2 separate regions of the Homo sapiens genome follow, and region 2 is linked to region 1. The links come from fine-mapping of genetic effects on gene expression. A gene starts in region 1. The other region holds a variant in brackets. All regions are shown on one strand. Distances are between the middles of the regions.

The links. PIP is the estimated chance that this variant, and not a neighbour inherited with it, causes the effect.
Region 2: its variant is the best candidate, but not a certain one, in a credible set for the expression of CA5A in anterior cingulate cortex (GTEx, PIP 0.61).

Annotation. Positions count from the first base shown.
Region 1 is chr16:87,934,813-87,937,719 of GRCh38, reverse strand. It overlaps CA5A (carbonic anhydrase 5A), which reads left to right and starts at 1,191. Exons shown (of 7, transcript NM_001739.2): 1 at 1,191-1,411. The coding sequence starts at 1,270.
Region 2 is chr16:87,904,535-87,907,441 of GRCh38, reverse strand. CA5A (carbonic anhydrase 5A) reads left to right here. Exons shown (of 7, transcript NM_001739.2): 3 at 2,538-2,656. Among named protein-coding and RNA genes, the nearest start is that of CA5A, 31 kb to the left of the region's middle. The variant T/C (reference allele first, on the strand shown) is at 1,578.

The DNA of each region.
Region 1 (2,907 bases):
AGGAGGCCGAGGTGGGTGGATTGCCTGAGCTCAGGAGTTCGAGACCAGCTTGGGGAACACAGTGAAACCCCGTCTCTACTAAAAATACAAAAAATTGGCCGTTGTGGTGGTGTGTGCCTATAATCCCAGCTACTCAGGAGGCTGAGACAGGAGAATTGCTTAAACCTGGGAGGCAAAGGTTGCAGTGAGGCAGGATCACGCCATTGCACTCCAGCCTGGGCAACAGAGCGAGACTCCATCTCAAAAAAAGAAAGAAAGAAAAGAAAAGAAACGAAGAAAAGAGGCTGGGCGTAGTGGCTCACACTTGTAATCCCAGCACTTTGGGAGGCCGAGGCAGGCAGATCACCTGAGGTCAGGAGTTCAACACCAGCCTGGCCAACGTGGTGAAACCCCATCTCTACTAAAAATACAAAAAATTAGCTGGGCATGGTGGTGGGCGCCTGTAATCCCAGCTACTCAGGAGGCTGAGGCAGGAGAATTGCTTGAACCTGGGAGGCAGAGGTAGCAGTGAGCCGAGATCACGCCATTGCACTCTAGCCTGGGCAACAGAAGTGAAACTCTGTCTAAAAAAAAAAAGAAAAGGAAAGAAAGAAAGGTGGCCCTGTTAATGTTTATGCCAAGACAGCAGGCATGACCTGGAAGTGTCCGAAGCCACAGGGCATCTTGCTTCCGGGGAGGATGAATGAATCAAATCGCACCTATTTTAAGGCAAGCAAGGACTCCATGACTTCAGGAGCCCTGGTGGGTGGACAGAAGCTCCCTGCTCCCCTGGCCTGTCTACCCAGCAGCGCTTTGGCCAGTCCCATTCCTGTACTTCTGAGCCTGCCTGCCAGTCCCTCCTCACATGCACACCATGGCTTTGTGCCTGGTATTGAGTGTCCCGGAGCCCCAAACCACACGGTCAACCCCATGAAAGAAACAGGGACTCTGCTCTCATCCACTCGCCCCCGCCTCCCGCGTAATCCCCTGGTGCTCACGCAGCCCCACCGTACAGTTTTTCTAGCTCCCTGGCAGACTTGTGCTCCTGTTTGCCAGATCAAAGCCCAGTGACCTGAGTGGCCTGTCCCCAGCAGAGGCCACTAATCCCTGTGGACCCACCCTGTTGGGAAAGGCATGGGTTGAACTTTAACCATTAGGCTCAGGGGTTGGGATGAGTTTCTACAAAAAGAGGTGGGTACACGCCAGTCCACAGTGGTCCTGATCAAAGTGAGAACAGACAGCAGGGAACATCACCCTCTTCAGACTGGAGTCAGTGGGAACAGACCCAAGATGTTGGGGAGGAACACTTGGAAGACCTCAGCTTTCTCCTTCTTGGTTGAGCAGATGTGGGCCCCTCTCTGGAGTCGTTCGATGAGGCCAGGGCGATGGTGTTCTCAGCGTTCCTGTGCATGGCAAACCAGCAATAACACTTGTAAGTAGAGCCTCAAATTTCCTAAGATGCGACTGGATCCTTGTCTTAGCTGATGGGGTCTTTCGAGAGGAGAGAGGAGAGACCGTCCCGAGCCAGATGGGTTCAGATTTCCACTCCGTTTTTTTTTTTTTTTTTTTAAGATGGCGTCTCGCTCTGTGGCCCAGGCTGGAGTACAGTGGCGTGATCTCAGCTCACCACAACCTCCACTTCCCGGGTTCAAGCGATTCTCCTGCCTCAGCTTCCTGAGTAGCTGGGACTATAGGTGCATGCCACCACTCCTGGCTAATTTTTCGTATTTTTAGTAGAGACAGGGTTTCACTGTGTTAGCCAGGTTGGTCTCGAACTCCTAACCTCGCGATCCGCCTGTCTCAGCCTCCCAAAGTGCTGGGATTGCAGGCATCAGCCACGGCGCCCGGCCCTCTTTTTTCTTTTTTTGATGAAGTTTTGCTCTTTTGCCCAGGCTAGAGTGCAATGGCATGATCTCGGCTCACTGCAACCTCTGCCCTCCAGGTTCAAGTGATTCTCCTGCCTCAGCCTCCAAAGTAACTGGGACTACAGGCACCCGCCACTGCACCCAGCTAATTTTTTGTATTTTGGTAGAGATGGGGTTTCACCATGTTGGCCAGGCTGGTCTCGAACTCCTGACCTCAGGTGATCCACCCACCTTGGCCTCCCAAAGTGCTAGGATTACAGGCGTGAGCCACCGCGCCTGGCCACACTCCGTTTCTCTTGTATTTGGTGACCTTGGGTGAATCATTTAGCCTCCGTTTCAGGGGTCCTGGGGAGGGCAAGATGCTGGGAGCAGGCGGGTAGTCCGTGTTCGCACGGGACACACTGGCACGACTCACCATCCAGACCCGGCGGAATGGGCTGCACTAACCAGTCACGATCGCTCCTAAACTCTTCGGCAGAGAACGCTTTCAAGCAAACCTGTAACAAATAAACCACTCAGCCAGCTCTGCCAAGAAACTGCCCCGTGCCAGCCCCTCCTGGCTTCATGGTCAGTGCCTTGTGACCTTGAACGAGGCCCTTCCTCTTTCTGGGTCTCAGGTGCTTCCTCCGTAGAATGAGAGCCTGCTTTGGCAGCTGCCAAGTTCTCTTCTAACTGAAATCTTCCATGCATTCCATGTTTGGGCCATTGAAAGAGCATGGGCTTAGGAGCCAGACCCCAGGCATGCAGTCCGACTGACGCTTGCTGAGGTGGAGCCTCGGCAGGTCTTCACCCCCAAGCCTCTGTGTCCTTATCTCGAGATGGGGGTGGCCAGACTTTCTCTCCAGGGCCATGGAAGGATGACACGATGCGTGTAGAAAGCCTGGCCCACCCCAGACTCTGAGTGAGCTACACTCATTCCTCCTGTTGGGGTCCACACCTGTGGACTGGAGTGCAGTGGTGCGATCTCGGCTCACTGCAGCCTCTGCCTCCTGGGTTCAAGCGATCCTCTTGACTCAGCCTCCCAAGTAGCTGGGACTACAGGCGTGTGCCACCACGCCCAACT
Region 2 (2,907 bases), 30 kb after region 1:
AAGAGAGAGAGGCAGACCCCCTGGGAGGCTCCACCCTCAGTCACCCATCAATGCACTTTGATGCTGCTGGGGCTGGTCGGCTGCAAACCCCCTTTCCCCCACAGACACAGGCCGAGGCAGAAGCGAGCACAGAGCTCACCGTGCTCCCATTTTGTGGTTCTGTAAGTTCCTTAGATTGTGTTTTGGAGGCCAGGCACGGTGGCTCACGCCTGTGTTTTGTTTTTGAGACAGAGTCTCACTCTGTCGCCCAGGCTGAAGTGCATTGGCGCAATCTCGGCTCACTGCAACCTCCACCCGCCAGGTTCAAGCGATTCTCCTGCCTCAGCCTCCCAAGTAGCTGGGATTACAGGCACCCACCAATACACCTGGCTAATTTTGTGTATTTTTAGTAGAGATGAGGTTTTATCATGTTGGCCAGGCTGGTTTCAAACACCTGACCTCAAGTGATACACCCGCCTTGGCCTCCCAAAGTGCTAGGATTACAGGCGTGAGCCACTGTGCCTGGCCTAACAAAGTGATTTTATGTGCTTATTGTGGGAAGGACTCTTTCTGTGTATTTTTAAAAATTGAGATGTAATTCATCTGTGTATGTTTAAGGAGAATAGAAGATTTGCTCATAATGGTAGAATTTTAAAACTAGATATGACTCTGAGGTTGCTCCAGACCAACACTGAGATTTTGAGTGAAGAGGGGCAGTGAGCAGCTCTGTGGCTTGGTCCAGCACTTGCCTAGCCCCTGACTGGACTAAAGCCAAATCCATTTTCCATTTTCCAGTTTACACCTTGGTGCCTCCAACTATGAGTACTTTTTTTTTTGAGACTGATTCTCACTCCGTCGCCCAGTCTGGAGTACAGTGGCACGTTCTCAGCTCACTGCAACCTCCGCCTCCCAGGTTCGAGCAATTCTCCTGCCTCAGCCTCCCGAGTAGCTGGGATTACAGGCACCCGCCACCACACCCAGCTAATTTTTGTATTTTCAGTAGAGATGGGTTACACCACGTTGGCCAGGCTGGTCTCTAACTCCTGACCTCAAGTGATCCGCCCGCCTCGGCCTCCCAAAGCGCTAGGAGTACAGGTGTGAGCCACCACGCCCAGCCCAAGTACTTCTGGTGTCGGGAAACCACCAGGAGTCAGCAGTGTCAAGCTCCCCAAGGCATTCATCACGCGCTCAGTGCTTTCCTGGCTTTTGCCACAGCGGGAGGTGACATGAGGCTCCTCCACAGCTATGGGAGGCACTCGGGCCACCCTGAATTCGGGATCAGTGCTCCAGTTCTGCTGGCGCCTTCCAGCCTTGCCCAGCCATCCCAGGAGCACGCTGTGCTGCTTTCAGTGAAAACGTGTGGAACGGGTACCCCATTTGTAGCAGCTGCTGATGGAAATCTGTTAGTGACAAAGTACTTAGACACAGGAGAAGCCACCCACATCCGAACCCCTGGGGAGCTCGTTAAAAGGCAGACTCCCAGCACTACCTGGACGTGGGAATGGCAGCCATGACTCTGGGGGCCAGAGCCAGAGGCCTCAGCGAGCGATGCTTATGGCTGAGCCCCACATGTCAGGAGAAGCAAGCTCCTGGGAGGC[T/C]GCACCTGGCACTGTGCCATGGAGAGGGGCACCCCGAGGCCTGCAGGTAGAGAGTGCTGACTCCAAGGTGAGTGTTTAGGGTGACTTAGGAAGGAAGGAGTGTTCCAATAAAAGCTGGCCCTGTGGTGGGCCTAGATTAAGCAGGGACTGCCAGAGATCAGGACTGATGCTACAGCTCAGGGTCTTCTTATTTAAAGACCTTGCTCACCCAGGAGCGGTGGCTCACACCTGTCATCCCAGCGCTTTGGGAGGCAGAGGCGGGTGGATCACCTGAGATCAGGAGTTTGAGACCAGCCTGGCTAACATGGTGAAACCCCGTCTCTACTTAAAATACAAAAATTGGCTTGGCCTGGTGGCACATGCCTGTAATCCCAGCTACTCAGGAGGCTGGGGCAGGAGAATCACTAGAACCCAGAGGTGGAGGTTGCAGTGAGCTGAGATCATGCCATTGTACTCCAGCCTGGGCAATAGAGTAAGATTCTGTCTTAAAATAAAACAAAACAAGACAAAACAAAAACTTTGCTCATTGTGTGTTATTTTATAATGTTATTTGGTGATAGGATTTAAGCTGCTTTTAAAAAATATTTGGAAGACACCTTTTTTTTTAATTAAAGTCTGGAAATCTTATAGGACAGGCAGGCATCACAGAAACGTTCTTTACGGATTTCTGCCTGCAGGGAGTTGAGGCCCTCACCACCACCCAGTGGCAGCACTGGGACCCTGCCTTCATTCCACATTTACTGTGAACCTCTGGGCAGGCGCTGGGCTGGGGGGGGGCAGAGTGAATGGGACAGACAGAGCCCACCTTTCACGGAGCCCACCTTTGGCTTGTCACTTCAACCATACAGCAACCCCTTGCGAGTGAACTCATATAACCCTAATGTAGACAATGCCTCAGGTAACACCACAGCTCAACAAACAGACAAAATGACACACACGTCTCACTGCCTTTATTTCCAGGAATTAGTGGTGGGCCCTTGGAAAACCACTACAGACTGAAGCAATTTCACTTCCACTGGGGAGCAGTGAACGAGGGGGGCTCAGAGCACACAGTGGACGGCCACGCGTACCCCGCAGAGGTTTGTAGACGTGGCCTAACAGCACATATCTGCACACTTTCCATGTCTCCGGCTCTATGGTGGGGGGTGAACAAGCCATGCGCGCCGCTCAGATGTGAAGGATTTCCTGGGGCCTGGGACTGTCAGTGCTCAAACCAGAACCGTCGGCCGCCCCACCCGTTTAGTCACACCTCTCCTACGAGGAAGGCGCTGTAAGTTCTCTCTCATTTAACGGAAGAAGAGACTGAGGTTCTGAATGGTTACGGAACTTG